Regions from separate parts of the Homo sapiens genome. Here all the other regions are linked to region 2. Evidence: fine-mapped expression QTL. A gene starts in region 2. Each other region holds a variant in brackets. All regions are shown on one strand. Distances are between the middles of the regions.

Region 1 (10,984 bases), 81 kb after region 2:
TCTCGCTCTGTTGCCCAGGCTGGAGTGCAGTGGTGTGATCTCGGCTCACTGCAAGCTCCGCCTCCCTGGTTCATGCCATTCTCCTGCCTCAGCCTTGATGACTTTTTAACACACTGCATATGGCTACTTGATGACCAAAGATAAACTAATACTTGTAGAGGCGGTTAGATGACCTTTGTTCCACTTGGATTTGCTTCTCTCTTGTTCTCAGATTTATAAACTCTATTTGGAATTTACCTTACGAAATCTAAACAAAGGGCTGACTAGCTCCCTTAGAAAGGATAACTTATATATACATATATCCTTCAAAAATTATTTTTCCTAGTTGGAGTAACATTTTATAACTATCTTACCATTAAAATTTTTTTAACTATGTTTCTTATGAATAATCCATAAAGTAAAATGTAGAGAAAAAAGTTCAGAAATATCCTTAGTGAACACCCATTTAATCACCAAGTAGGAAATTTGTCCACTAGAGTGAATGCTAGAATTCAAAAGTGTGTTATTTGTACTTTCTTTGCTCCTCCGAATTCCTTTATACCTTTCCTTTCCCTTTTTCTTTTCTTTTTTTTGTTCTTGAGATGCTGTCTTGCTATGTTGCTCAGGCTGGTCTTGGACTCCTAGGCTCTAATGATTCTCCTGCCTCCGTTTACCAAGTAGATGAGATTATAGGCACGTGTCACTGTGCCCAGCTTATACCTTTCCTCTTTATGTAACAAAATCAGTCTTTCAAATACCTGTCTAGACATGATTTTTTTTTTTTTTGAGACGGGGTCTGGCTCTGTTGCCCAGGCCGGGGTGTGGTAGTGTGATCTCAGCTTACTGCAACCTCTGCCTCCCGGACTCAAGCCGCCCTCCCACCTCAGCCTCCCAGGCAGCTGGGACTACAAGTGCACACCACCACAACCAGCTAATTTATTTTATTTTTTTTTTTGGTAGAAATGGGGTTTTACCATGTTGCCCAGGCTAGTCTCGAACTCCTGGGCTTAAGCAATCCACACACCTTGCTTCCAAAAAAGCTGGGGTTACAGGTGTGAGCCATCACACCCAGCCTAATATACAATCTCAAATATTTTGTTTTAAATCATTACTTACTGAACTATAAAGTAAAACTAATTTTTAGACAGCATTTTAATACATATTTTACTTTTTAAAGGTTATAAAGAAAACACTAACAATATGGAAAATGCATATTTAAAGAAAATTGAAATCAAATATAATCTTATGGCTCAAAATCATTAGTGTTAATATTTTGATACCTACCTTCCCCATCTTTTGCCTACGAATACTGGGTTAAGAGTTTTTAAATAGTTTTGTCCTTGCTTTGTAATTTTCGTTATGTTCTCACAAAAGAGAAGCTGAGGAAGCATTTGGCTATTGTGAAAATTAATTAATAGATGTTAACTTACCAAGATATACTATAATAGATTAGACAGCCTGTGCCAAAATTTAATGCCTAGCCAAAAGCCTCATTAAACTTAGACTAAGCAACCAATGTCAATAATTTTTTAAAGGAAAGCACTGACTATGATAATAACTAGAAAAATCCTTCATTTAATTTAATCAACAAATCAACATGAGTCAGTAAGGTTTGAAAAACTATTTTAGAGTAGAATTTCTTAATATGGACCAACAGAGCATGAATATTCAGATTACCACTATCATTACCCAGCTACAGATTGACTAAAACGGCACTAACCACCTCTCAGTGAGTATGGACCACTACCCTCTCCCTTGGCAATCTCTAGTTTCACGGCTTTAAAAGAGATCTATATGCTGATGCTGATGATTCCCAACTGCTATCTCCCAACCCGGCCTATCTTTAGAGCCTCAAATACATTTATTCAACTGCTTATTTGACATCTTTCTTTGGCTATCTAACAGGCACCTCAAATTTAGAGGGCTAGATATTGAACATGCTAGATACTGAATACTTGAAATGCTATTATTATTCATTCAGTATCTAGCATGTTCAATATCTAGCCCTTGATTTTCTGGCCCAAGAATTCCCCACCTATGGCTTAAGCCAACAGTCTAGAGTCACAGCCGATGCCTCCTTTTTTGCTTATTTCCACATCCAATTACTAAATCTTATATTTGATCCAAGCACTTTTCTCTTCTTCCCCTCTACCACTCATGATCTCACACGTGAACCACTGCACAAGCCTCTGACAGGGGTTCCCTACTTCCACTCTTGGCACCCTATAGATTATTCCGAACACAGAAACCAGAGAGACCACAGCATGTCTCTTCCTCAGCTTAATGCCCTTCTACAAATGGCACTTTCTTCCTACCAACTCTCAGGCTTATGCCACCTGACTTCTGCTCCTTTCTCCTACCTCATTTTTCCTCCCCATTCCCAACACTCTAATCTCTTTGGTCTATTTTCACCAAGCTCTTCCTTTGTACTTGCTGGAATGCTTTCCATCCCTCCACCTAACTCTGACTCTTTTTAACCCTGGGGTGCCAGGACTGCTGAAACAGCTGCTGCTAGTGCTGCCCTTGCAGCTGCAACAGCCACCACTGCCAATTACTCCATCCCAACACCTGTTAATTCCCTTTTTTGCATTTACCACACCTAAAATTTCCTGGTATTTTTAAAAAATCCCTTTGAATCTCCTTACTAGAATATAAGTGCTGGGAGAACAGTGATCTTACTTATCTTGTTTGCCATTGTTCCTCAGGGCCTAAGTACTAGCTAAGTATTTGTTGAATGAACTCATGCATACATTTTCCAGAAAAGCAAGAATAGTGCAGAAGCAGATGCTACAGAAGATAACCCAGAAAGTGACAACAGTGTGCAAACCAACCCTTAGAACTGAGGAGAGTTAGATTAGTTACTATAGTATATTATTTTGTTATAATTATCTCTTACAATTCCACTTTAGGCGTGAACACTTTACACAGCTAGAAGTTAAGCTCTAAAAAAAATTCATCTAAATATTTGACTGCCTACTACTGTGTTCATTTAACTACTAGTTGAACTTAATCAAATGTATTAAACAAGGCACTGCAAACTGCCAAAGACAATGATAACTAATTCAAATGCACAATAAGCCTATTACAACAGTTATATCTAATTTACCACTTCTACTTTAAATAAAACTTCAAGGGTAGCTGGCCCTCATACTTCAATTCCCTATCCAGGATTTTTACCTTATGTTCCAAATTTTGGTTTGGACAATATGGAACATGTACCCAGGAAAAAAGCACATAAACCTTACTGTGTAAGCCCTGTAAATGCTAGTCTGGTAGTTCAGAAACTTTTATGCTTACTTCCTGGCTCTCGGCAAGCCCCAGGAAAATAAGATACATGGCGTTGACTGTTAGGGAACTTTGGCTTGAGATGGCGAAAGGGTCTGAATTTGTGGGAGAAAAAGTTTTGGAGAACTAACAAAAAACTTCAAGTTTTCTATGATTGCTAACAATAATAAAATTCCTAAAATTCCAAATCTAAATACAAAGTTCAGGCAGCATCAGAATACTTAACATTGAAGCAGAAATGTCAGTTCATAAATTCTTATTCCCACTCAAATTTCTTCTTGTGAACTAACTTTCTAATAAGTCATCCTCAACATTCATTTAGAGAATGTAAGTTCTTATTTTCTTTAAAGGCCTCGCTGGTTGGGCTATTAAGCTTTATTAACATGAACTGGCTAAATGAGACAGATAAAAAATAAGAAAATCACTTAATAAACAGCATCAATTAGAAAGGCTTAAATCACTATTCAACTGGCTTTAATTCTTCCCTTACATTCAATCGCCACAGCCAGTGAGTACTGAAGTCCAATAATTATATTTGTTTAAAAGGCATATGCAAAAGCTGGTAAGAATTTCTTGCTAAACCTTTGAAAATAACATGACTTCAAATATCTTAAAACACTCCTTTAATCAGACAAAAATAAGAACACATGATTTCTTAGACAATGTCTTACCATTAAAAGGTTAGAGAAATTACTGAAATTTAGAACACATTCCCAATTCTCTGCAATGTTACACAACATTATTAGTAACAGTCTTTAATATTTTCCCCAAAAACCTGTTAATTCTTCTCTCCATTAAAATAAATAAATAAATAAATAAAGATTCACCAGGACACTTGGAAAAAGCAGGTGACTCCATGAGATCTACAGACAGACAGACACATTTCAATATAAGCAAGAGTTTCTCCTACAGAATCTCCGAAAGCCAAGATCATGTCTCCCCACACAGCTCTGATATTAAAATAAAGCACAACATGTAAGGAAAAAAGCAAGATTTTGAATGGATAGATTTAGCACACTTTAAGATCCAGATGTGATAGTTATGCTATTACCTAAATGGTTTATAACACCTTTATTAAATTATCACAGATGGTTTTACTTATCTAAAACTAAATTTATTGCAATTACAAATTTTTAAGACTTGTTTTACCAGTCAGTTGAGTATTGCTATTTTGTACTCTATGTAATTTCTATGATAGCTTAATAAGGGAAGGAGTTAAGTTTTTTTAAATTTAACACATAATAAATGCACAAACTTTTGAGACAATGACAGTTCAGTATGTCAATCCACTAGGCATAATTTAGGCACCCTTAAAAGCATACACATTTAACTAAATGGTACTCTAAGTGTTACTCAAAATTGCCTTAAAAAGGTTAACAGCACCTAATCAACACCTAGATACTCAACCATTCACCTAACATGATCAGACCTAGTGCACTGAAC[CCTAAAGA/C]CTTCTTCACATATATTTGGTATTTATCTTAGATCATCTCTATTCCACTTACTTTCTCCCAGGCTCTCACCTTTATTTTCCCCAACGTTCTCTATTTCTGCATTCCTCTGTTAATTCTGTTGACCTCCTCCCTTGATATTGCTTGAGGTTCCAACTTTGGTTTTCTTATCTGCTCTCACTTCATTTTCTCTGAGTTATCGCCCCACTCCAGGAAACTCACCTACCAAGTATATCCCAGTAACCTTGAAATCTATACTGTTAGTCCACGTCTCTTGATCTACAGCCTTGAATTTTCAAATGCTACCTTTACATCCATCCACAAATAGTTCAGGTACCTCTCTCCAAAAATATCAAAACTTGATTATATACTCCCCCTCAAATCTGCTCTTCTGAGTCCAATTTATCAGTTAACAATAGCATCATTTACATGAGCAACTTAATAAATCCGTGTCACCTTTAATTCTTCCTCACACTCAATGTCCACAGCCAGTCAGTAGTGAAGTCAAATAATTACATCTGTGAAGTGTTTTGACAATCTATGTACTTTAAGTTCATGCTGCCACTGCTTGAGTTCTGGACAACACCAACTCTTATCTGGTCTAATGCAAAAGCTTGCCTCCAGATTTTCTAAACTAGTTCCTTATTCAAAAGTCTTTGACTAATTCCCATCCCCTAACTAACCTTAACACCACCACATTTTGGGCGTCGTATGAAAACAAAAGCCAGTTTTCATACAACGTCCAAAATGCTGAAATCTCAGAAAAATTGACCCTCATCACCCAATTCCTATGGAGAAAGACAGGCTGAGCAAGGGTTGTGTTCTACCATAAAGAGTCTGAAAACCACTAGGAGATAAAGCTAACTCCTTGGCAAGAGACTTACCACCTTTATAAGGTCCACTCTACCTGTTTGGCCTCAATATACTATGATTTTCAAATTGTCTTAAAGTGCATTATAAGCTGGTCACAATTTAACGATCACAGCCAGCATTATCATTAACTAGAAAATAAAACATACTAGGCTAAATTCTTCCCTGTTATCTTTTATTTAAAATATATTTTTAATTCTTCCCTGTTATCTTTTATTTAAAGATGTTTTTATAAAACATACAAGGCTAAATTCTTCCCTGTTATCTTTTATTTCAAATTTATGTACTGAGTCACAATGTAAGAGATCTCTGATTATGGATCACAGTCAGTTTTGAGTTCTTTTGGTTGGCTACAAGATGAACTTCACGCAAGTCTTGCTGTTCTCTCCTTCACACATAAAAATTCTTCTGTATTTTTCAATATTTAATTCAAACATCCTGAAATTAAAAGATACCATTTCACCTTCATATTAGCAAAAATGTTAAAGTCTACTAAGTGCTGTTCAGGAACCCACTAAATGCTTATGGAAAAAATTATTTGTACTTCTAATTACAATATTTTTTTAATAATGGAAAAACTGTGACTAACCTAATTATCCAAACAATGAAATATTGCACAGCAGTTAAAATGTATTAATGGGCCAGGCGCGGTGGCTCACGCCTGTAATCCCAGCACTTTGGGAGGCCGAGACGGGCGGATCACGAGGTCAGGAGATCGAGACCATCCTGGCTAACACGGTGAAACCCCGTCTCTACTAAAAATACAAAAATTAGCCGGGCATGGTGGCGCGCGCCTGTAGTCCCAGCTACACGGGAGGCTGAGGCAGGAGAATGGCGTGAACCCGGGAGGCGGAGCTTGCAGTGAGTCGAGATCGCGCCACTGCACTCCAGCCTGGGCGACAGAGCGAAACTCCGTCTCAAAAAAAAAAAAAAAAAAAAAAAATGAATTAACACGTATCTACACAGATAAGTTTTGAAACCAATAGTAAATAAGAGAAGCAAATTTCTAAAGAATAGGCACATATTCTAAAGAACAGAATTATCATTGACTAACTTTTAAAAGACACACATGATGTTACACTTGTTTATGGATACTGTCATATTAATAAATGTAAAAGCATATGTATGAGAACAATACACTTAACGTCAAGGCAGTGGTTACCTCTGGTGAGGTAGGGAGTGGGAAAAGTTGGATGCATAAGGCTTTAGTTGTAATATTTCCATTTTTAAAATTCTGAAGCACATATGGCAGAATATTAATAGCTGTTAAGTCTAGGTAGCTGAATACACAGGTGTCTTGTTACTTTCTGAAACATTTCTATATGTTTGAAATATCTCATAACTGAAAATCTAAACTTTAAAAAGATCACTGAAAATCTACTCAAAAGTTGGGAGTGGGGGAGTCTTTTCTCCCCTTCATCCCTACCCTTCCCAAATTGTTCTCTCCCTTCCCTGTACTCCCATGGATCACTTATAAATATTTATAATATAATGTAATAGATGTTTCCCATGTATTTGGAAACTGTTTACTAATCTTTGATTCTCCAGGATCCAGCAGGATGCCTAGCAGTTAGCAGGGGCTCAAAAAACGGTTTTGTGAACAAATATTTAAAAGTGACACTTTAAACAAATTAACTAACAGACTTCCTGGATATTGCCAATAGTGACACTGTAGCAAGTACTTTTAATGCAGATCATAATTTTTGTAATTATTTTCTCTATTACTTTGAAATGATAACTTCTTTAAAATTTTGGTTAAAAAAACACTACGCAAGCAGAGTTAAAAATCAACATATTTTTAGTTCACTTAAGTGATCTATCTTAGTAAAGGAATCTACTTTGGAGTTAACCAAATCAATGCTATTTCAGGTACATAATTTAAATATATGTAACATTTACATAATGATCATTATTGTGGCTAAACTGGAATTAGATTATGCAGCTTTAAGTTAAATTATGTAAATTGTAAATTATTTCACCTTTCTAAAAATTATGTGAGAAAGGAAAAGCAGGTATTACTATAAATATTTCAAAGCCAAAGAGACTGATTCAGAGAGGTTAGGTTACTTGCTCAAGATTACAAAGACATCAGATTGTGCTTTCAGGATCAAAACTCTGATCTTCTGCTGTTAAAGCAGGATTTGTCTACTCTGTTATATCCATGCAGCCACATACTACTAACATTCCTACATTAGCCATATATCTTACTCCTGCTTGAGAACTGTGAATACTCATTAGGCCACTAAGCCTCAATTGTGATGACTAAGTTACATAACTCAACAACTATTCTGTTCTTTATCAGGACCTAATTCTACCACCTTTCATTTAGGAAGAGGAGAGCCAATTGGATGAACCCTCCTTCAATGCAAATGTTTTACAAAGATTGGTCTATTTTCCTGCATAATCCATATCTAGTGGTTTATTATGAAGAAAATATATATATATATATATATAAAAAATAAATTTTCCTAAAGCGTGAAATAACTGGCACACTTGCTGATATTTTGAAATTATATATTTCCGTTGTACATTACAAAGTTCACTGATAGTGACAAATAAAGTCAATTTACACTTTACTAGTTGAGAAGAGATTAATGTGCATCAAACACAACTATTAGAAGTTAATTTATATAATTAAAAATATAGTAAAATGATAACAGTGAAAAATTTTGTTATTTGCAATCTCATGGCTGGTCACATATTTGTAGTTTTTAAAACCTCCCCCTAGATAATGCTTATATACAGTGAAGGCTGAACATCAGGGCTGTGAAGCATGTTGGTCAATGATTCTCTAATGGTGACACTTCAGCTACTGTGATATTTAATTCTTCTACATCTTTGTGAGTTTCCTATTTAACTGCAAGTATTTATAGAAAGGGAGTATACCTTAAACCTCTGTTTTCCAAGTTGTGTTCCACAGAATTTAAAACATTTTCTGCTCCCTCCCACCAAAAAGAATCCCATAGTCAAATAAAAATCATCTTTTGCTTGGGCTCATGTTTTTCAAAGACATTTAACCCGAAACCTCTATCAAAGAATCCAAAGCTTAAGGCTTAAACTCTGACTTAAGCTTTCAGCAGCTAACATCTGGAAAGACAGACAGCTGGTAATAAGGCCCTGGACTAGAAGGAAGCTGGTCCCCAGGCTCAAGGAGAAAAGACCTAAAAATGATCTTAACAGAACATCAGAAACATTTTACTACTTTTTTTAGTGGAAGTATGGGGGTGGAGAGGACGATAAAGGAGATGCAATTCTTGCCCTCAAAGAGTTTACAGTTTAGAAAAGAAAATAATCACAGATAAGTATTATGAAGTGAAGAATGCCTAACACAATCTTGGTAGCCAGAGAAAGGCAGAGGCACAGCAAGGTTACCAAGGATGGCATCCTGAGAGAGTAATGTCTGAGCTTAACCTCAAAAAAAAAAAAAAAAAAAACAGGAATTGGATAGAGGAAGAAGAGCATTCAAATCAAAGGAGGCTACAAAAGTAGACACATAGACACTGAGAGATGCAAATTCAACCACCCTGAAATACCATCTTTCACCCACCAGGTTGGCAAAGACCCAACAATTTAATGAACTATGTATGGAAAAATAAGTCCCCTTATACAGGGCTGGTGAAAGTAAAAATCTGTATAATCTCTAAGGGAAGCAATTTGGCCAAATCTGTTAAAACTTTATATGCACAAGGCTTTTGACTCAACAATTTCAACTTTAGGTATTTGTCTTAGAGCTTGATTTACATGCATATAAACACAAATGTTATTCATTTCAGAATGTGTTTAATAGCAGAAGATAAATTAGGACACAAAATAAAGTAACATACATACTATTTTTAAAAAGAATGGGAATGTTCTTTATGACAATCTCCACAAATGCTGTTAGGCTAAAAAAAAAGGCACATAATAGCTTAAATAGTATATTATCATTGAATAAAAAGAGATGAGGCAAAGAAAAAGAATATTTCACTGTGCTGATTTGTAGGTATAGGTTGCTTCTGGAAGAAAACACAAGAAATTGATAACAGTTACTTCCAGGGACAAAACTGAATGACAAATGACAAGTAACAGAAAGACTTCTTTGTATAATATTTTGTATCTTTTATATTTTGAATCATTTTATGTGCTACTGATCCATAAATTAAACTAAATCAGTACAACATCTAATGGAAATTAACACAGTTTGAAATTGCTAGAATATGAAATTTAAGACAAGAAGTGATCAGAAGTGAAGCTCAAGAGATAGCCAGTTCATGAAGGGACTTATCTGCCATTCTAAAGATCATGAACTTGAGCCCACAACTGTGTTTCTCAGTTTAACTGGGGACCACATGCCAACCAGGGATAAAACACATCCCTGGAATTCAGCCGGAGTCATTAATTTCAGGTGTGTGCTTCATAAAACCAAAGTCTGGGAATTCTCCACAAACTGAGTCAGAGTCTTGCGGGGCTAAGGTTCAGGTGTCTGCATTTTAACAAGTACTCTTGGTGACTAAAGGGTACAGGGAGCTTCTGTGGAGTTCCAAGCAAAAGAGAGAAAGGGCCAGATGTTCACTTTAGATAGACACTCTGGTAACTGTGTCTAGAAGATTTGAGAGGAGCAAGGATTCAGTTAGAAAGCTCTGGCAGTACTCCAAATCATGCTCTTTAATTTGATTAACAATCATATTGTATGTAATATACTTATTGCATACAATGTAGCAAAAGTATACCACCTGACAAAAGTATACCATGGTACGCTTATTGCATACCCTGTGGCAAAAGTATTATCTGCCCAAGTGCTACAACCTAAGCCACAAAATCTTCAGAAAACAAAAGGGAAATCCAAGGTGCTACACCTTCCAAGTCATCTAGTTTAATCCAATAACACGGCAGACTGTTAAATGAAATTATTCTATCCCATTATGAATTTTAAAAAACAAAACTAAAAATAGGAACCAGTAAAAGGGTTGCCGAGTTGTGAGACCTGGAATGATGGAGAGGAGGGCAGAAACTGCTGACTTCTTATTTGTTCTACATTAAAATTTTTTTTCCTTATTCAGTTCCCCATCCCTGGTGACAGGTGAAAAAGAGCTTTAAATAAAACCTTTTTTTGACCAATGAGGTATGTTTCTGGTGTCAAAATCCTTTCCAAGTCAGTTTTGTTTCATCTAGAGTTCTAATTTGTGTCAAGGACCCTGTTAATAGCAATTGCACATTTGCCAACAGCTACATCTCTTAATGATGCAAGTAAATTGTAATAATAGTTTTACTGGCCTTTGAAAGGTCATGAGACAGTAGAGGTAAAATGTTTGACCAGAAATCTGATATCACAAAATAAGTCACTGGTCAATCAATGGGGAAAAAGACAAGATTTTAAAATAAAGCAATGTAACCAATATGAAACGGTAAATAAAAGTCAAAAC
Region 2 (10,984 bases):
TGAGTTGCAAGGTTTAGGGAAGAAGGAGAAGAAAGGGGATGATAATGATGATAATGATGATGATGGTGATACTAAAATGGGGAGGTAAATAAAAATTCAGTTCCATGTGATTAAGCACCACAGTAGCAAAACTTGATTATACTCGAAATCAAAATGGCAATTCATTAAAACTACCAGATTTTAGTGCCCGATGTGTGGGCATATCGTACCCTTCAAAACACCAGTTCTGAAAGTCTTAAACATTTAAAATCCAATTCAATCTTTTTCCAATCATCAAAATATTATTCAATATTACTTTCAAATGCCTTTATAATGGTTTCACAATTAGCGTGTTAATGTTACTGACTAATGTTACTGACTAAAGTACTGTTTCCTGAGTACTTTACGGCTGATAATAGTTTTTCAGGCCAAATACCCTTTGATGGAACTTCAGAGGTTAAGATAATTTTGTAGTTTGAAGAATTCCAAATGTTTTGAGAGAGAGAGAGAGAGAATGGGTACCAAGTGATCAGAACACAAACAAAACACTGACAACAATTTTGTCAAAACCAAAGATTCTGAAACTGAATGAAAAATTTCTGACCGGAACCTAATGATTCATCATTCTCAAATACTGTTAACTTAAATATCTGAGTCTGATGAATCATTAGGTTCCAATTGGAAATTTTATCTAACTTCACATATCTGTATTTTTACTCAGATATGTGCAAAATAATAAAAACCAGGAGACAACTCAAAATCCTAATTATGAAAAATCAAAAGAACCAGAATTAGAAGTGAATGATTAAGTCAACAATTTTCCACCAATAATTAAATTTAAATCTTCCAAACATAATCGTTATTCACATATTTAAAGATTTCAGGTATGAGAGAGTTCAGTTTAGGACACAGACTACTGCAAGAGACTATTACTCCCACTCGAAAAATGAAAAAAAAAAAAAAACCATCATAATATTTTTTAAAGGTACCTAAGAGCTGAGTTGGCGAACCAACCAGGTAACCTGAATTCCAAAATGTGACAAGCCCCTGAGGACAGTGGCATACTGTCCTGCTTTACCTTTTGCAAGGCATGAAGAGAAGAGGTAGCAATCATGTAAGCATATAAGAAAAAAGAACTAAAATTTTACTGAATTCTTAAAGATTTCATACATAGAAATTGCAAGACATTTTGATAGAGAATAATCTGTAAAGTCCTTCCTAATAATAAAATAATTTCAAAAAACGAATAGCTAACATTTAGAATGTGTTCACTAAATTTTAAGCATTGTATTAATACTAGTACCTGCCAAGCTTTATCAAATTAGACCTCACAACCTAGTAAGAAAGGGCTGTTCGTTTCCTTGCTTAACAGAAAAAAAACAGTGCAGAGAGGTTAAGTAACTTGTCCAAGTTAACAGAGCTGGTGAATGGTAAAGCTGGGATTCAAATAGAGGCATCTTTACTACAGAGCCTGGATCATAATTACATGTCTCTTCTCTAATCTAGACATAGTTTCTTAATGCAATTTAAATTGCTTAATGATTTATTTTGTTCAGTCTTCACAGGGAACAAATTAGAAACTTTCTCCCATTTCTTTTAGATATATCAGGACAGAATGCTTAGTCATGTTTAATAAAGAATTTAACGCAAACTTTTTACATTACAGATTATACTACTATTACTTGATTTAAGGGTAATATATGACTGTACTCTACATGGGAAAAGTGGAAAACATAGAGTAAATTAGAATCCGTTTGTTCTTGCCCCAAGCTGCCTATCTTAGAGCATTAAATTACAATGAATTAAAGATCTACTTAGTTCCAAGCACCATTCATTCATTTAGCAAATATTTACTGAACGCCTACTATATGGTGAGCTCTGTTCAAGGGGCTGGAGATAGAAAAATCCAAGCAAAGTCCCTGCCCTTAAAAAGTCTAGTGGGAAGAAACAGGCAATTAAAAAAAATACATTAGGGGGTGATAAGGGTTATGTAAACAGGTAGCTGCCACCACCACAGAGACTATCAGTTCTGGAAATACATTATTCAAGATTAGTTTGGCTACACATAACAGAAAAGTCCAATATAGTACAGACTTATACAATGCAGAATTTATTTCTCGTGTAAGTCTTGAGATAGGTGGTTATGGCAAGTTAGCAGATTATCAGAGGCCCAGGCCCCTTCTATAGTCCACATCCTTAGCAGGTGGCTTTAATCCTTATGTTCCAGGACAGATGCTGGAACTCCAGGAATCCTATCATCATCTAGACAGCAGGATGGAGAAACAAAGAAGGGTGGACCGTCTTCCTTTTAAAGAGATGTAAGAATCGGCTGGGCACGGAGGCTCACGCCTGTAATCTCAGCACTTTAGGAGGCTGAGGTGGGTGGATCATCTGAGGTCGGGAGTTCGAGACCAGCCTGACCAACATGCAGAAACCCCGTCTCCACTAAAAATACAAAATTAGCCAGGCGTGGTGGCGCATGCCTGTAATCCCAGCTACTCAGGAAGGCTGAGGCAGGGGAATTGCTTGAACATGGGAGGTGGAGGTTATGGTGAGCCGAGATTGCGCCATTGCACTCCAGCCTGGGCAATAAGAGTGAAATTTCTTCTCAAAAAATAAAAATAAAATTAATCAGAAAAAATAAGATACATCAGTAGCAATCACAATGCAGTTCTTTATGACCAGATAGCAACCTCTATGTACCTACTAATCTCGTCTTCAATGGACACAATTCCTTACGTTAAAAAGAATCTAATGTACCAATTTAAACTTGCATTTATTATATTAAGGCAATAGTCATGATTAGAAGGAAGGCAAAAAAAAATTATTCCCATATTAGGAAGATGAAGTATGTCTGTTACCGGGGCAAACTATCAAACTGAATTTCAAAACTGACAGGCTCTCCCTGAAGTCCTAGAGAGGATCTTGTGTTCACTAATTCAGATGTTGCAAGTATTCTAGTTCCCAGGTAACTCCTAGTAAAACCAAGACTGAACAAAGATATTTCTCATCTTTAAATTTAGAATCATCTCATCGATTAAACCTTCCTATCTATGAGATCTATATCTGAAGTGGGCTCTCCCAATTATTTTACATCTCAAAACTGTTTATTCTCATTATGGCATCTTAAATATTTTTGTTTATTCTTTCTCCTCCATTAGCTTACAGGCTCTCTCTGTTTTGTTCCCTTTCCTGAAGGAAACTATAATTTTTTGTGTCAAAAATATTTTCTCCTATGAGTTGCAATCTTCAGGGAAAGGACGTAGCTTCAAACAAAGGCAAATGCTTTCTCCTTAGCCAAAGTAACATAAAGGTCACTTTCTGTAAAACATCAGGATATTGCATTTTAAAATGCTTTCCATATAACATTAGTTTGATGAACGGCTTAGCCTAGGATTCTGCACCTAGTTCCAATCAAAACCAAGTTGTGAACAGATCCCTTCTTTACACCAATCTCATCTTTCAAGAACGAGCTAAAGGTTCATGAATTCCTTCCTCAAGAGGCAGTTACTTTTCAAGCTAAGGACCAAGCTTGAAACAAGCATATACCTGCACAAGGGAGGTTTAATTTCACTACAGAGCGAATCATTTTTTCAAGGAAACCAGAGGGTGTGTCATACAGCATCACTGAATATTCTAATATGCGATGAAGCTGTTATGCTTCCTTATGAACTTTATAAATCTTCATTTTTATGAGGCTTAGAATTCATCCCCCTTCCCTCTTCCACTGTTTTCCCGGGGTCACAGTTGTAGTATAGTTTGCCCAATGGATTTCGCATGGTCATTGTACCTGGAATATGTCACGCTCCCTACTCTTACTGCCCCCAAACTCTTCTCAGCAGAGATAGGCTGAAAGCAGCTCGCTTTTAGGCGGCGACGCAAACACACGTAGCCAGCTGAGCGACAGCAAGCAACCAAATGGCTTTGCTGGAGGCCCCCTGCGTGCACGGGTAAAGCTCGTTGCAAAATACAGTCCTTTCATTTATTCCCATGTTGCTATTTATGAGACCTGTCAAGGCTGCAAGGGCATGCGCAGCCTTCCCACCACACAGGACCCGCTGGGGTCTCCGGCTCCCCTAAAATTAAACCATTGTCTCTCGTTCCAACGGCGTGTTTAGCTGTTGTGCGTTATTTTACAGATAAAGGAAGGATCCCGTCCACAGACCCAATTCTTAGGGCCGCCTTCTCCCCGACGGAGGAAGAAGCTTCCTGGCAAAAGGACGAACAGGTGCGACGCCAGCAGTTCGCAGCCTCTCACCTGGCCGGCGGGCTGGGCTACTGTCACCACTCAGCAGCCAAGGACTTGGGCCCCGCAGCGGCGGCCACTCGGGGTCTGCCGGGTCCCCTCTCTTTCCGCCTGCTCTCGGCCCCGGACCCCAGACTCAAAAGCGCCTCACGCGTTCCGCCTTAGGCTCACCGTCCGATCTCGCCAGACAGCGTCTGGACGGGACCGGGAAACGGCGGCCGCCACAGCTGTCCAGGTTCTGGGATCCACGCTCAGAGACGACAGCGCTGGCGATCACCAGAAGGCCTGCGGGCTCCCGAGAAAGGAAAATCCGTCTACAGTCCAGCGGCTGACATTTCCCAGTCAGCCGTAGCGCCGCCCGCTTCCGCCTCCCCGCCTACCCCGTGGGCCGACCAGTCCCGCTCCCGCGGGGGGTTGTGGGTATCTCGAAGGCGGGTAAAGCTGCAAGGGAAGGAAGTAAGGGCGAGCCCGTCGGACTACGAAGCGGGACGGAAACTACAATTCCCAGCAGGCCTTGGGCCTCAGTGCGGCCGCGAAGCAGAGCGGGCTGTAGAGCCTTGCGCGCGCAGTGGGGATGGAACGTTGCTAGGCTTAGCGGGTCTGGCTGCTGGGGGCCCGAGCAGCACGCTCGGAGCCGCCGCGCGCCAAAGCGGGAATCTGGGAGGCGAGCAGCTCTGCAGTTAATGCACGTATTTTAAACTCCCGGGCCTGCGGACGCTATGCACAGGTAAACGGATTGCAAAAAGGGGAAGAGCATGAAATGGACCCTCTTAATAATTCTTTTAGGCCGCGAATATCGCTACTGGCTAATATTGTTAGTAATGCTGTTAAGTGAATGGTTGCTTAGCCCCTTCTTGGGGAAAGTGTGAATGGATGGATGCCTTAGTGCGGGGATCAGCGTGTGGTTTTATTTGGCTTCCCTAATTGGGCTTTTCTGCCACCGTTTTCAATCAGTGTATGATTGCCCTGTCTCTCTCCTTGTCTGTTCCCTCCACTGGGAGAAATTCTTGAGGCCTTCTGCAGGATCGTAAGTCAAAAAGCCTTCTCGATTTGTTCTTTTCATTTCTTCGTTTTCTTGGTAACTCGCCGCAGGCACATAAAAAATGCGATTCTGTTAGCTGCTGTGAAGGTTTCCTACAATGCATAAACTGCAGCTTCTTTAATTGCCTTGAAATTATTTATGGGTGTGTTTTCGAAAGGAACCGGGGGTATTGTGCACTTCTGCAGGAAGCACCTCCAGGAGATTCCAGACCTGAGTAGCAACGTTGCCACCAGCTTCACGTGGGGATGGGATTCCAGCAAGACTTCTGAACTGCTGTCAGGCATGGGGGTCTCCGCCCTGGAGAAAGAGGAGCCCGACAGTGAGAACATCCCCCAGGAACTGCTCTCAAACCTGGGCCACCCGGAGAGCCCCCCACGGAAACGGCTGAAGAGCAAAGGGAGTGACAAAGACTTTGTGATTGTCCGCAGGCCTAAGCTAAATCGAGAGAACTTTCCAGGTAAGGACATGAGGGTAAAAATGTCAGTTATGCAAAGGGTGGATTTAGCTATGTTGTTGGGAAACCTTTGTTCAGAGATCTTTAGCATGGGTTCCTTTTAAGATTGCCTAATTCTGAAGCTATTTTTCAACAAAATAGGGCAAGTCGTCAAGTATGCAGGAATCTTGGTAGATATATATATATATATATATATATATATATGTATGTTCTGGTGCATAATCACCTTGAAAATTTTAACCCATGAGAAGACATTCCTGCCTTTTTCCTTAGAAGGGAATCTGCCTGCCTCAAGGCCAGCTCAGTTTCACCGTTTAACAGAAACATAAACAGTGGTCTTCTTGTAGGATTCCTTTTGCTTTGTACCCCTGAGTGATCTTTTTGCCTTAATCACTTTAGTTATTTATCAGTGGACTGCGAAGTGAACGTTCACCTAAGTGGGGGAGACATCTCCCCAGGCCCACTCCCACCCCCATATTGGCTTCTCCTGGTATGTTCTGTCTCCATTACTGCTGACACTATCTGTTTAATCACCCAACCCGAAAACCTGAGAGTCAGTCAGCTTCCCACCGCCCCCCAACATCCAGTCATTCATCGCATCTTTCCCTCTTCTCTGGTAACTATTTCTCAAGTTCTCGTCGTCTCTTGCCTGAACTATTGGAGTGGATTCATAATTCCAACCTTCTTCTCCCCAGATCTATCCCCCGAACTAGAATGGATTGACTGAAATGTAGAACTTACTGTATCTTCCCTCCTTAATAGCTCCCCATCCCCTAGTTCCTCAAGCAGGCGAACGAGTGCCTCCCAGAGTGAACCAGAACCCTGGAGTATGCAAAAGCCATAGGATAAACAGGGCATTGACCTGGGGTTATCAGTTTTTCTTACTAGTAAGCTATTTAAAACAGTAATACAGCAAATATTTGCTGAGCACATACCATGTGCTAGGCCGTGTTCCAGGTGCTGGAGATAGAGGAGTGGGCACAACAAACATTTCTGCTCTCAGGGAGCATCCATTCTAGTGAGAGAATACAATAAACACAATAACTATTTTTATATAGTATGTTAGAAGGTGATAAGAGCTATGGCTAAAAACAAAAATAGAACAAGCCAAGAGGGAATGCAGGTCTTGGGGTGGGAAGATAGAGTGCACTTTTAAACCAGGTATTGAGAGAAAGCCTCAATTGGACAGTGACCTTTAAGCAAAGACATAAAGGAGGCAAGGAGTGTGCCATGCAAATATCTTGGAGAAAAGAGCTCCAAGCAGAAGGAACAGCCACTGCAAAGACCCTGGTGCATAAATGTGACGTATTTGTTCCAGGAACAGGGAAGCCATATTCTAAGAGTGGAATGAGCGAAAGGGAGAGTCGGGGGAGATCAGGCTGGAGGTAATGTTGAGCAGAGTTGTGATGGGACCTGATTTAACCTTCTAAAAATGACACACTGATGTGTTGAGACTCAGCTGCAGGGGCATCAAGGGTAGAAACTTAGGGTCTTTTTTAAATTTCATATTTTCAAGACGGAGTCTTGCTCTGTTGCCCAGGCTGGAATGCAGTGACCTGCTCTTGGCTCACTGTCTTCACCTGGATTCGAACGATTCTCCTGCCTCAGCCTCCTAAGTAACTGAGACTACAGGCATGCACCACCACGCCCAGCAATTTTTTTATTTTTTGTAGAGATGGAGGTTGCGGGGGCGTTCTCACCATCTTGCCCAGGCTGGTCTCAAACTCCTGGACTCAGGCGATCCTCCAGCCTTGGCCTCCCAAAGTGCTGGGATTACAGGCATGAGCCACCACACCTGGCCAAAGCTTGAAGTCTTGTTGGGGGTGAGGGTGGTCAGATTCCGGATATATTCCCACATTAAAGTCAACAGAATTTAGGAGGCTGTTGAAATCATCTGTGGAAGAGGTGATCAGAGTCTAAATTGAAATCAGGTGGGGGATGATGGCGAAGAAGAAACAGATTAAACATTTAAAGATGAAGTCTTGCAGACCCAAGGTAATTTAAGTATATTCATAAATTCTCCCATCTGGTTTCCTTTGCAGAAGGGTTGATAGATTGGTTGTTTAGTTGATTGGTTGGTTGCTCGCTTTGGCAGCACATATACTGAAACTGGAAATACAGAGAAGATTAGCATGGCCCCTGCGCAGGAAGACATGCGGATTCGAGATGCATTCCACTTTTAATTAAGAAAATAAATACGTTTGTTTTCAGCCTTTTCTTTAGGAAAGAGAACTTTGCCCAATTTATGGTCTGGGAATATACATCAGGAATTGGATTAGTTAGAAAAGCAGTAGAGGGTTGTAGTGAAGTCAGATCTGGGTTTGAATCCTCATTCTTGCGTTTATCAGCCTTGGAAAGTTATTCGAGCTTTCTTTGCCTTAGTTCCTTTATCTGTGAAATGGAGTGCTGTAATAATACCCACTTCACAGGTCGTCGTGAAGATTAAATGAGAATGACGTAAAACCCTTAGCATGCCACTGACACGTAACAATACATAAGCCAACAAAATTCCTGACACCAATTTTGGAGGCTAGTGGACTTTTATCTTTTGTTTTTAATATTGTTACTCTGACCCTGTTAGTATAAAATTTTTTTTCTTCAAAATTTAATGTTCACCGCTCTTCTTTGTGTCTGGAATGTAGCCCTAACAATCTGGTGCTTGACCAACCAAATATGGCGAAAGATACTTCCTGCTAAGATGAACAGATTTTTATTAACCTGTCCAGTGCCGATAGCTTTTGACATAGAGTGTGATTGCTATATGCCCTTCCACAAGTGAAAAAGAATTTTTTTTAAGCAAGGCACTGTGGGAACAAGACAGAAGTTTCCGGAGTCTTTGCTATTTCCCAGGAATTTGCAAGTCAAGTTGAGGAGAAAATACAATAAAAAATAAGAGCTGTGATTCCCATTCAGGTGGATGTGGAAGATCTTCCTCCTTCCACTCAGCAAGAAAGGAGATTCTGAGGAAAGAGAGGGCTCTGAAAATGGTGTAATCAGTGTCTTGATGGTTAAAGCTGACTTCAAAAGTATATATCTGAAGGGAGAGAGAAAGAATGGTGACTTTTATGTTTATTACCTAAGGAGAGGCACAGAGGGAAACCAATGTACGTGGACTTACAACAGAGATTGCTTAATTGGTGTGGAGTGGGGAAGGGTGAAATCAGTGATGCAGGATGAGGGACAGCTGGTATAGAGGATTCCCAATGGGCCTTTGGAAGCCTGGGCCTCCAGTGGAGCCGGATTGTCATTCCAAGGAGTTTTGTCTGCAGTTGTCAGGACAGGTGGCTACTAGCTTTGCCAGGATTAGGGTAGAACAGGCCACACCTGCTGTACATAGATATCTGATGACTGGTTCTGGGCTGCAAGTTTTTGTTGGTTCTTTGCTAAGCAGTTTCTCCCTGCAGGCCCCAGTCCAGCCGTACATCTGGCAACTAAATCCTCTTCATCCGTTTATCTGGGAAGATGAAAGCTCTGTGGCCAACCTGTACTAGAACAGGTCTGATTGGCCCTTGGAGTGAGTGTATGGAAAGAGTTGGGGAGGAAATGGCCCAGCAATGAGGTCAGTAACAGGCGGAAAGGGGACAATTGCATTTTATTTATGGTCATGAAATGCTTGTCCCCCACCCCACCCTTTAAACAGGTGATAGCCATGAAAATGGAGGTGAACTAATTTGTTGATCAGCTCTTCCATGACTCTTAAATGCTTGAAATTCCAGACCCTAAAGTGGTTGTCAGACTGGAGATACTAAAATTTACTGTATATCAGAATCCCCACAGGAACTTGTTCAAAGTGTAAAATTCCTGAGATTCTGATCCGGGGAGTCCTGGCCTGAGTGAGCCTGGGAATCTGTGTCTTAATACCCTTAGGCAAGCATTTTTTCCAACTTTTTTTTTTTAACCAGTAAGAAACATATTTTACATTGCAATCCTGGGTATGTATCTGAAACAGCAGTTTTACAAAACTGTATTTCCCCTTACTAAGATATTTTCTATTCTGTTCTAGTTCATTCTTTATATGTACATATATGCTAGTCAAACCCACTAAATTGATTTCATGATCTATGTGAGTCTCAGTCTACAGTTACTAAACTCAGCACTGGAAGAGCCTTTATGGGATCTTCCCAGTCATCTTTCTTTGTTCCATAGCTTCCTTTCATTCATCCATTAAGCAAATATTTCTCAAGCACCGTTTTAGAGGTTGGGACTACAATACTGAACATAACAGGCAAGAGACCCTGCCCTCATAGTGCTTATACACTGTTCCATATTTTTTCCAAATCCCAGCTTCTGTTGTTTCTTCATTACACCCCCTACACCTCAGGGTTGAGCAAGTCTTTCATAGAAATAAAGGGTTGTGGGACTGAAGGGGTACATGGGGGAATCCTTGTTAAGTTTGGCTGTGTTTTGTTTTTTTCAGTTTTGCCCACCTTAGCCAAAAAAACAAAAACACCCAAAGCCAACATGGCCTCAAATGTATTATTTATGGTTTGTGGGAAGAGGAAGGAGAACTCATCTGGGATGGCACAATCTGTTTGTAGTTCCCCAGAAAGAAAGCATGGGGTATTGCTACTTAAAACAAGCCAGCAAAAGCAATTCTGAGGTGAGCACCCCCCAACTCCCTGAAAGAAATGCACACACACACAAAAACAAGTATGAGTACCAGGTCCTCAGTATACATTTCTGCAAGTATAATCTGATTATGCTTAAAGAGCAGCAATTTTTTAAGTCAAAAGTTTGATTATGATTAGCATTACTTTGGATTTTCAGCTTGAATCTGAGTGGAGTGGAGTGATGTTCTGAGAAATAAATGAGTGGAGTGATATTCTGAGAAATAAATATGTCAAGTAAGATGAGTTACCTACACTGCAAAGATGGAATGCATAGAAAACTCTCCAACAAGGCCCTCTTCCCAGAGAATTTCAGGAAGCATGAGATGTGATAAGGTTACAGAAGTGGGAAACTGGGTTTGCACCTGAGAAATAATTGGAAACAGTGGTAGGTGAGGGTGATTGTAGTAGGTTTGCTGGTTTGGCCCAGTTTTTGCCCTTTCCTGGCCCTGAAGTATATTTAACTGCCGTCCATGTCATTGAAGACTGGAGACCTTGGGCTCAGTAATTATGTCTTTTAATGTGGGTCTGGTATGCAGCTACAGCCTTGCTGGATTTAGCAGAGACAAGTGGAGAAAAGACCTCTGGATTTTTCCTTCCGCTCTCTGCAAACAGACCAGGCAGCAGTTTCATCATGAATTCAGGAAACAGATGGC
Region 3 (10,984 bases), 28 kb after region 2:
GAGTGTGTTTTGACCAAGTTGAAATTATAACGCATTGTATATATTTTGTTTACAAGCTATCCTAGTATTTTTTTAAATGTATGAAATGTTATCAGAAAGCGTTTTCATAATGATTAGCAGTGTATTTCACGGAATGGATGAGGTTAACATATTAAACTAACTGGAGGAGGGGCTAATATAACTGTTGCCACATTGAATATATTCATACACATCTATATTTTTCTAAAAGTGGAATTACTGGGCCAAAAGTAAACTGTATAATTCTCTGAATTCTTTAAAAAAAAAAGAAAATCAGTTCACTATCCAAAAAAAGCAGGAATCAGTTCACTATCCAAAAAACGCAGGGTTCAGGCTCCTGAAAGCCTGCAAATAAAATTAAATATCTACCTGTGGTACATGGAAGACCTACTTTATGGTAGACCTACTTTATAATAGAATTTTTTTTCACTTGATGGCTGAGAAGAAATATTTCTAATTTTATTTGGTATTTCTTGCTCCTTTTTATTATCTTGGTATTTTGCAATGTAGATTTGTTCATGTTCATTGCCTATTTTTGATTTATCTTTTTTCTCTTTATATAAGATTAACTCACTGTTTAATATATGTTGAAAACATTCCCAGTTTTCTGATACTTTTTAAATTGTTTTAATATGGTAGTTTTAAAATTTTATGTAGTAAATTTATGTGTTCCCTATGTTTTCTTTTATGTTTAGAAATACCTTATACCAAGATTCAATTAAATAATTACCCTGAATTATTTATTTAGTAATTTTTAATATTTAATATATTATTACCCTAAATACAAAAATATTATTTTTGTATTTAGAACTTATTATGTGGAATGTATTTAAATATGTTATTTGAGTTGGAGAAATATTTTTTTCCAGTTGTAGTGGCAATATTTCTTTTTACTGATCCATTATTTCTCTTGTTGATCTGAGGTGCTACCTTTGTAATATATTGTTTGCTTATATATACTGGTGTTTAATTTTACTTTTTGCTTTTGTGAATGGGATTTTTTTCCCTATTATTTTTCCAGCCTGCTATTGCTGATACATAGATAAGCTAAAGATTGTCATTTTACACAGTTTTCTTTTTCGGATGATTCTCTTGGGCTTTTTGGGTAGAAAATTTTATGTTCCAAGATGATCATTTTTTCTTTCTAATAGTGTGTGGTTCTAATTGCATTGCCCTGAACTTCCAGCATGATGTTCAATGATAGTAGTGATAACAAATATCCTTGTCTTGTTCCTCATTTAATAGTGACCATCATGTTTTTTTGCTTTTCCTAGATCTCTCTACTTTAGTTAGAAGATGCCCCAATCTTGTCCATCTAGACTTAAGGTATTTTTTTATTTGTTTATTTTAGATCAAAAGTTGAAAAATCTTGATTTCTCATTAAATTGGGAAAGGATCATAATGTTGAAGCAACTAAACAGTAGGTTATTTCTGTCTTCTTTATCTAGGATCAATGTGTGATTTTCAATATCTTTTCTTCTGCCTTCTTAACAGTGATAGTGTCATGCTAAAGAATGACTGCTTTCAGGAATTTTTCCAGCTCAACTACCTCCAACACCTATCACTCAGTCGGTGCTATGATATAATACCTGAAACTTTACTGTAAGTATGTTTTGTTTTTAATGCTTAATAGAAGGCAGGAAACAACAGAGATGCCCCTTGGTGTGAAAATCCATTTTTATTAATAGACATATGAAACCGAAACATTAGTAATAAGTATACCACAGACTGGCTATGAAAGACCAGCAGAGTATTGCTTAAACTGGTGAAATTGAGTTGATCCAGATTGTTCACTAAACATTTATTGTTTAGCTGTAAGCAGTTTTAATTACTAGCTTGCTGTCTTAGTATCTATGAGAAGACTTAGCAGAGAAGCAGAAGATAACCTTTTCCTCCAGGAAACTTGAAGTGTAATTGGGAAGGCAGACCCAATGTGGGTTAGTGTCTTTTTTTTTTTTTCTTTCCAAATTTTTCGGATTAACTCCAGTTGATTCCAAAACTTTCATCTGGGCTTAAAGTTCTGTATCTTCTAGTGATGTAAGTCCTGGATAGTGAAGAAATTGGAAAGATATAAGCCTGTAGATGGTATGTATTGTAAGTCTGATACTGTTTTTGAACAGGGGCATGTTAAGGTCTAAAAAGTGAAGTGAAGTGACTTATTCAAACCTGATGGTGAGTTGGTGGCTGACCTGGATCTAAATCCTAGGTCTCCTGGACAGAGGCAAAATAGTCACTATCTAATCTAATAGTTTATACAAGGGTTAGTTTTACCTGCTCAGCAACTTCCACAGAATCAAGGGAGTGCAAGAAAGCAGCAGCCTGGTCCATCTTTCCTTTGGGAAACACCATACCCAACTCATCCTGGGAATCATATCTTGTTTGAAAAGGTTTTCTGCATTTCATTCCAAAGGGCTGGAAAAGTCTCCCTAATGGCAAATGTACATGTGTAGCAATTTTATTAAAAACCACAAGAGGTCAGTATCTTAGAGTTGATCAGGTGCCCAACATGTCTTGAATGCGGCTGCTGGACTCATTTATGTAGCTCATGAACTAAAAGTTAATTTAGCTTCCAGCTCCTAGGTAGGAAGGGTGGTGAATTTGAACAAAGAACTTTAGTCCTCAGAATCATAGTTTGAATCTTTTAAGTTAGTTTCAAGTATTAATGAATAAATCAGATACTTCAGCTACACAGAGTTAACTAGTAGAGTTAGGAAATCTGGCAGCTACGCATTTTAATTAATCATTTTTAAATTAATCTTGGGGTTCAGGGTCTGAGCTGGTATCTCATTTGGGAAAGGACTGCCTAAAATAGGATGGCAGGATTTACTTTCCCAGCTCTCAAATGTTGGGGTTTAAATTCATGCGCATGAAACTCTTATTAAAATCCCTGCCCTCTCTATTTTCTAGCATCCAGAACTCCTAGGAGCTTCTAGCGTCTACCCAAAAAGGCTTCTTTGTCATCCATTCTTTCCTGTCCTTGCCATCTGGCCTCCTGCTTCTTTGCCTGTGCAGCCCCCTGGGGAGTGTGGTGATCATTCTTTTTGGGTTGCTTTTCTCAAGAGAATCTATCCATGTGTCTTGCTTTTGTTCCTTCTCTGCAGAAAGAAAGAAGCTAAGCAGGTAATGACCCAAATGCTTTTTCTCAAGCAGAGGCGAGGGGAAGGCTGTGAGCTCTTCATTTTAATATTTTTATCCAGTGGGATAATAGTAATAGTAATTGCGATACCTGCATAATAATGGCATGGTAATACTTGGAGGCAGTGTGAATTGATAGTTACAAACACGGGTCTGAAGTCACAGACCTGTTGTGAACCTTCACTGTATTATTATTTCTTATTTGTACAAATCTTATGAAATAAGACAAACAGGGGCATTAGGAGTTTAGTTACAAGTCAGACCACTAGAATAGAGAAGAAGAAAGATCCTGTCCTTGAACATTAAGGTAAAGAGTATATTTCTTTAGGTATTGTGTAAATAGTACACTGATTTGCATTGTGAATCCTTTAGGATGAGTTTGTTGGTACCTTATGCTTAAAAGTTTCTTGAGATAAAATAAGAATTAGAATGACTCTAATTTCAATCATTTTGGCAGCTGATATATTTGAGGTTTATAATAAAAATTCCAGGATGTTTCCATAATAATTTCAAGAGAGCCATCTATGCTAAAGAACTTAAGGCTATTTATTTCTCGGAAGTGGGAAAATACAATTTGAATGTCTTTCTTCTGTAATATTTTAAAATACTTGGGAAACTATAAAGTTTTCTTCCCCAGGACCTATTCCCATTATATTTATTCCCTTACTTCTTAATTGGTCTTCTTCTCTATGTCTAAACTTCCTTCTAATTCTTCCCTATTTCTCATTCAAGTAAGAAACCCAAGCTGGAGGTAGTAAACTAATCTAAGATAAGACTAAAAGACTTCTGTGGTAGGAGCATTTGTAGTTGAGGCATTTAAGATTTTATAAGGAAAACAGGATTATTGTACAGATAAGGTAAGGAGCAATCCTGTGAAAGAGTTCATAAATATCTTTTATTTTCTAAAATTCAATATACATAAGACATTGGTGTGATTTTACATTTCTTACATTAGAAATAATGGCTCTTGAACTACTTATTTCTATTTGCTATCCCTTAGTTTGCTCTTCAGTCTCTTCCATTGTAGTTTTTAAAAGATGCTTGCAAATTTTTTATTCTGAGTTGTAGGTAATGCACATACCGGGGGCATTTTTTTTTTTTTGTCTCCTTAAAATTTTAGAGACTTTCTGGATTTTTGACTTGGAACTGGTTCTTCATCCATCATCTTATCTTATATAACCCCCTTATATATAACACCCGGGTGTGTTCTGAGAGTCTGTTCTTAATTTCTTTCCTCACCAAATCTCTTTCCCAATGCTGTTGCAAGAACATGTCCTCCTCTGCCATCTGCCATTCCTCCTTTTCTTACTCCACCTACAGTTTCTTCCCTTAAATATTCTCCAGTGCAGAATGGCTCACAATTTGGCTAATTTGGATATACCAGAACCAGAATTCTCATAGTAATTACAACGTTTCCCAAGTTTCACATGAGGGATTCAAAGTTGGAGCTGGATTGCTGTCATCGTAAGTGATTAAGTATAAGTATCTGTGT[A/G]TACTGTGATCTTACTTCGACAGTGTTTCTACATTCCAGAAAGCAGTTTACTTAATGACAGCAATTTGTTCTTTCTGATTTTCTTTGGTTATATACCTTTAGATCTTATTGTCCCCTTGTGAACAAGCATATTTATTTCCCTTGGATAATGCTTTTATTTTATAAATTAGCCTTCATCTTGTACTCAGCTAACGTATATTAAACATTTGTGGGGTTTAAGACACCTTGTAGAATGTAGAATAAATACATTTAGGGGAGTAGTGGGAAGACTGGAAGAGCAGGTTAAACACGGAAGGTCTTCAGACTAGCTGAACAGCCTGGGTTCTGTAAACACAAGGGAAGCATCAAAGGTTTTGGAGCAGATGAATGACTAACATGAGCTAGGCTTTAGGAGGATGCCTTGGAAATTGGTATATAGAATAGGCTAGAAGGAAGAAAGACAGTTATAAGGAAAGTTTGGGGCTTTTTAAAAATAATTATTGACAATGTGAAAATATAAAGGATGTTTCTGACTTTAGGTAATTGATGTGCTCATTGATCTGTAGTAGGATTTTGTTGAAATTCCAAAATAAATGTTCCCTTTCCTGAGACTTTGTACTGTATGTCCCAACCTTGAGCAAACAGAGATGAGAGAGATGAATTTCTAGGCACATAGATCTGAGTTAAGAAGGAAAAAATCATTACCAACACCAAACAGTATTTACTTTGGAAAAACAGAATTTGTGAAACAGAATTTGAGAAACAGAATTTGTGAAACAGAATTTCACTGTTAACAGGGTTGAATTTCATCTAATGTGAAATACCTAAAGGGACTGGCTTATCTATGCAGAAAAAAAATGGTAATACGTAGGGAGGTAAGATGGCTATTACCTCCTATAAAGGGTGTGATTTTTCACCCATTGTCTCTACCTGTACCCAACTGTATAACCCTATCTAAAATATCTTAGGGAAGTCAGTGGTAGTTTTCATCACACATAATGGACTTGTTGACTATGAACCATTATTAAGAAGTTCATCAGTCCTGACAGCATCTCCCTTTAAGAGATGAGCCTAGTTCAAATAAAGGTCAAGTTCATATCCTTAATTTGCATGTAACCTGTGGTGGTTCCAACTGGTGCCGCAGTAAAACATTTGCTTTTACCATCACTCACTTGCTAGTTTCTTCTCATAACACAGTAACCCCATTCAGATCACTGTATAAATCACAACTGGAGAAAGGAAGCAAATATGGTTGGATTCTTAAATAAATCTGAGTTTCTAAGGTTATTAGGAACCTCATTCAATAAAATGCAGCAGTGTGTTTCCTAATGACATGTTGCTCAAGCTATATGGTCTGTGCTTTCCAGTTTAATTTGCTATTTTCTCAAATCATTTATTGTAAATTACACTTTCAGACTGCATTTTGTAGATGACACAAATTGTAAAATTTGGGTCATATAACTCTAGTCAAACAGTTTCCATAGATACTGCTATTCTGAAAGTCTTTTTCTTCCTTTCCAGTGAACTTGGAGAAATTCCCACACTAAAAACACTACAAGTTTTTGGAATCGTGCCAGATGGTACCCTTCAACTGTTAAAGGAAGCCCTTCCTCATCTACAGATTAATTGCTCCCATTTCACCACCATTGCCAGGCCAACTATTGGCAACAAAAAGAACCAGGAGATATGGGGCATCAAATGCCGACTGACACTGCAAAAGCCCAGTTGTCTATGAAGTATTTATTGCAGGATGGTGTCTCTTCTTTAGAACAGGGAAAATAGGCAGGAAGCCCAATTGCTGGAGTACTTAGCTAGTTTTATTCTTGGTTTTCCCTTTGCCTTCATTCTGCAAGTATACTAGGGAGCCATTTGAGAGGGAAAACTATGAAATCTTGCTTTTTGAAATGATTCTAAAAGCTTCTATCACTGCTTTGCTCTTAAGAGCCAAAGTTGTAGGCCTTTTGAAATTTTAGGAGAGTGAGCCTATAATTTCAAGATACCTTAAAGAGCAAAATTTGAGCCACCTCTTCCAAGTGCCCTTCTTACTAAGTCTATTCAGAATCAAGCTTAAAAATTACCACCAGCAAACAATCTTCATAGCCCATATAACTTTTATCTATTTAATTTTATAGTATTGCTTTATAAGACAGCTTAGAAGAACAATAAGCTATTTGTATTATGAGCTGAACAAAAAGAGAATCATAGGATAGTAGCGTCTGAGGCCATCTTTTCTAGGAATAGGAAAGAGAAAAATGTATTTGAATTTTGCCTTTAGATTTGAAATTAGGTTAATAGAAATAAGTAACCCCATGTAATTCACCTTAAAACTTAACAAAAGACCAAACATTACAAAACCCAGAGATATAGAATCAATATAGGATTTGAAGGCCCAGCAGACAGTTTTCTATGACAGGTTAATCTGAAGTATCCTGTAATGTTCATTAAGTTACTGTGTTTCCAGAATCTAAATTAGATGAGAAATATAATTGTGGTTTTCTAACTTGATAATCAAATTATGTTAACATGGGTCCTTTAGCTTTTAAAATGACTTGCTTTGTTTTAGAAAGGTGGTATTAATCCACTCTCTATTCTTGAAAATTTGGATGGGAGAATTCTGAAGTTGCCTGCTGTTTTCCTTTAGCGCTGAGGTTCTTAAGGTTACTTTTATATTACTCTGGAATCAAGTATTTTAAATTGTATTTTTTTTTTAAATGATCTCTCAGCAATAATTGTTTGAAACTATCCATATATAAGGTTATCAGACCTACAGTTCCCTAAGAGGAACTGCATGTTCTCTTCAATCAGAAATATACAGTAGAAGCAGGTATATCTTCCATGCAGTTTCAGTAGTAAGCACTACTTATACCTACATAAGAGTTAAAATCCAGATGTGGGACCTTTTGATACCATCAGTGATATATATTTTTTTAAACTGGTACAGAGAAGTGAAAAGATTAAATTCTACTTCTATTTTTTTTTTTTTTTTTTGAGACGGAGTCTCGCTCTGTCACCAAGGCCGGAGTGCAGTGGTGCGATCTCGGCTCACTGCAAGCTCCGCCTCCCAGGTTCACGTCATTCTCCTGCCTCAGCCTCCCGACTAGCTGGGACTACAGGCGCCCACCACCACGCCCGGCTAATTTTTTTGTATTTTTAGTAGAGACGGGGTTTCACCATGTTAGCCAGGATGGTCTCAATCTCCTGACCTCATGATCCGCCCGTCTTGGCCTCCCAAAGTGCTGGGATTACAGGCATGAGCAACTGCGCCCAGCCAAATTCTACTTCTTAAAAATCACAAAAACTAGTTTAAATTGATGACTTGTTCGTATGTTCAAAATGTAACAACAAAAAAAGCTAACACCAGTCATTTATATTAACTTTTTTTTTTTAAATCAAAAATTGTTAATGTTAGAAACATACTATGAAGTGCCTTTATCTGCTTAGACCTAAGGAAGATTTTAAAGTTGGGTTGCACAGGAAATGATGATGCTTCAATTTCTTAATAGTTAAAAAGTGCTAAATACTACTTGAAATTATTGTTTACAGATTAGTGACAAGAGCTGGGGTTAGGATCCGGTTGGACTCTGACATCGGATGCCCTCAAACATACAGAACTTCCAAACTCAAGTCCAGCCATAAGCTATTTTGCCAACATGTCAGAGTAATCTGTATTTTTGTATGTGATTTCTACTTTTATAGACTTGTTTTAAAACAATAAAACACATTTTTATAAAAATGAGTGCTTAAACTAAGTTGTATTCCTTTTTTCTTTCTCTTTTTTTAAGTGCTGTGGTTAAAATTTGAAAGCATTTAGTGTGGTATGCCATTTGGCTTAGATACCTCTAAATAAGACTCTTCAAAACAGAGCCCTGAGATGGTCCTTTTTGACCCATCTACTTCATATGCTTGTCACATTAAAAAAAAAAGTTTATAATGCCTTTATAAAAGGGGCTAATACAGTCTTGTTATCTTTTTTTTTAAATTATACTTTAAGTTCTAGGGTACATGTGCACAACGTGCAGGTTTGTTACATATGTATACATGTGCCATGTTGGTGTGCTGCACCCATTAACTTGTCATTTACATTAGGTATATCTCCTAATGCTATCCCTCCCCTCTGCCCCCACCCCATGACACGTCCTGGTGTGTGATGTTCCCCTTCCTGTGTCCAGGTGTTCTCGTTGTTCAATTCCCACCTATGAGTGAGAACATGTGGTGTTTGGTTTTTTTGTCCTTACGGTAGTTTGCTGAGAATGATGGTTTCCAGCTTCATCCATGTCCCTACAAAGGACATGAACTCATCATTTTTTATGGCTGCATAGTGTTCCATGGTGTATATGTGCCACATTTTCTTGATCCAGTCTATCATTGATGGACATTTGGGTTGGTTCCAAGTCTTTGCTATTGTGAATAGTGTTGCAATAAACATACGTTTGCATGTGTCTTTATAGCAACATGATTTATACTCCTTTGGGTATATACCCAGTAATGGGATGGCTGGGTCAAATGGTATTTCTAGTTCTAGATCCTTGAGGAATCACCACACTGTCTTCCACAATGGTTGTACCAGTTTACAGTCCCACCAACAGTATAAAAGTGATCCTATATCTCCACATCCTCTCCAGTATCTGTTGTTTCCTGACTTTTTAATGATCGCCATTCTAACTGGTGTGAGATGGTATCTCATTGTGGTTTTGATTTGCATTTCTCTGATGGCCAGTGATGATGACCATTTTTTCATGTGTCTCTTGGCTGCATAAATGTCTTCTTTTCAGAAGTGTCTGTTCATATCCTTTGCCCACTTTTTGATGGGGTGGTTTTTTTCTTGTAAATTTGTTTGAGTTCTTTGTAGATTCTGGATATTAGCCGTTTGTCAGATGAGTAGATTGCAAAAATTTTCTCCCATAGTGTAGGTTGCCTGTTCACTCTGATGGTAGTTTCTTTTGCTGTGCAGAAGCTCTTTAGTTTAATAAGATCCCATTTGTCAATTTTAGCTTTTGTTGTCATTGCTTTTGGTGTTTTAGACATGAAGTCCTTGCCCATGCCTATGTCCTGAATGGTATTGCCTAGGTTTTCTTCTAGGGTTTTTATGGTTTTAGGTCTAAGTCTTTAATCCATCTTGAATTAATATTTGTATAAGGTGTAAGGAAGGGATCCAGTTTCAGCTTTCTACATATGGCTAGCCAGTTTTCCCAGCACCATTTATTAAATAGGGAATCATTTCCCCATTTCTTATTTTTGTCAGGTTTGTCAAAGATCAGATGGTTGTACATGTGTGGTATTATTTCTGAGGGCTCCGTTCTGTTCCATTGATCTATGTCTCTGTTTTGGTACCAGTACCATGCTGTTTTGGTTACTGTAGCCTTGTAGGATAGTTTGAAGTCAGGTAGCATGATGCCTCCAGCTTTGTTCTTTTTGCTTAGGATTGTCTTGGCAATACGGGCTCTTTTTTGGTTCCATATGAACTTTAAAGTAGTTTTTTGCAATTCTGTGAAAAAAGTCATTGGTAGCTTGATGGGGATGGCATTAAATCTATAAATTACCTTAGGCAGTATGGCCATTTTCACGATATTGATTCTTCCTATCCATGAGCATGGAATGTTCTCCCATTTGTTTGTGTCCTCTTTTATTTTGTTGAGCAGTGGTTTGTAACTCTCCTTGAAGAGGTCCTTCCCATCCCTTGTAAGTTGGATTCCTAGGTATTTTATTCTCTTTGAAGCAATTGTGAATGGGAGTTCACTCATGATTTGGCTCTCTGTTTATCTGTTATTGGTGTATAAGAATGCTCGTGATTTTTGCACATTGATTTTCTATCCTGAGACTTTGCTGAAGTTGCTTATCAGCTTAAGGAGATTTTGGCTGAGACGATGGGGTTTTCTAAATATACAATCATGTCATCTGCAAACAGGGACAATTTGACTTCCTCTTTTCCTAATTGAATACGCTTTATTTCTTTCTCCTTCCTGATTGCCCTGGCCAGAACTTCCAACACTATGTTGAATAGGAGTGGTGAGAGAGGTCATCCCTGTCTTAGGCCAGTGTTCAAAGGGAATGCTTCCAGTTTTTGCCCATTCAGTATGATATTGGCTGTGGGTTTGTCATAAATAGCTCTTATTATTTTGAGATATGCCCCATCAATACCTTATTGAGTTTTTAGCATGAAGGTTGTTGAATTTTGTCAAAGGCCTTTTCTGCATCTATTGAGATAATCATGTGGTTTTTGTTGTTGGTTCTGTTTATATGCTGGATTACATTTATTGATTTGCATATGTTGAACCAGCCTTGCATCCCAGGGATGAAGCCCACTTGATCGTGGTGGATAAGCTTTTTGATATGCTGCTGGATTCGGTTTGCCAGTATTTT

What was found.
Region 1: its variant is fine-mapped to the expression of SKP2 in blood mononuclear cells (TOPMed, PIP 0.93).
Region 3: its variant is fine-mapped to the expression of SKP2 in whole blood (TOPMed, PIP above 0.99).

The regions. Positions count from the first base shown.
Region 1 is chr5:36,227,872-36,238,855 of GRCh38, forward strand. The region is part of intron 1 of NADK2 (NAD kinase 2, mitochondrial); the gene reads right to left. Among named protein-coding and RNA genes, the nearest start is that of NADK2, 8.6 kb to the right of the region's middle. The variant CCTAAAGA/C (reference allele first, on the strand shown) is at 4,708.
Region 2 is chr5:36,147,319-36,158,302 of GRCh38, forward strand. SKP2 (S-phase kinase associated protein 2) reads left to right here and starts at 4,793. Exons shown (of 10, transcript NM_005983.4): 1 at 4,793-4,952; 2 at 5,453-5,724. The coding sequence starts at 4,945. LMBRD2 (LMBR1 domain containing 2) reads right to left here and starts at 4,569. Exons shown (of 18, transcript NM_001007527.2): 1 at 4,238-4,569. MIR580 (microRNA 580) reads right to left here and starts at 670; the gene lies at 574-670. It also overlaps the pseudogene RNU6-1305P. RefSeq lists silencers at 3,840-3,899, 4,500-4,639 and enhancers at 3,853-4,836, 4,910-5,099.
Region 3 is chr5:36,175,673-36,186,656 of GRCh38, forward strand. SKP2 (S-phase kinase associated protein 2) reads left to right here. Exons shown (of 10, transcript NM_005983.4): 8 at 1,293-1,344; 9 at 1,513-1,620; 10 at 6,146-8,647. The coding sequence ends at 6,359. Among named protein-coding and RNA genes, the nearest start is that of SKP2, 29 kb to the left of the region's middle. The variant A/G (reference allele first, on the strand shown) is at 4,646.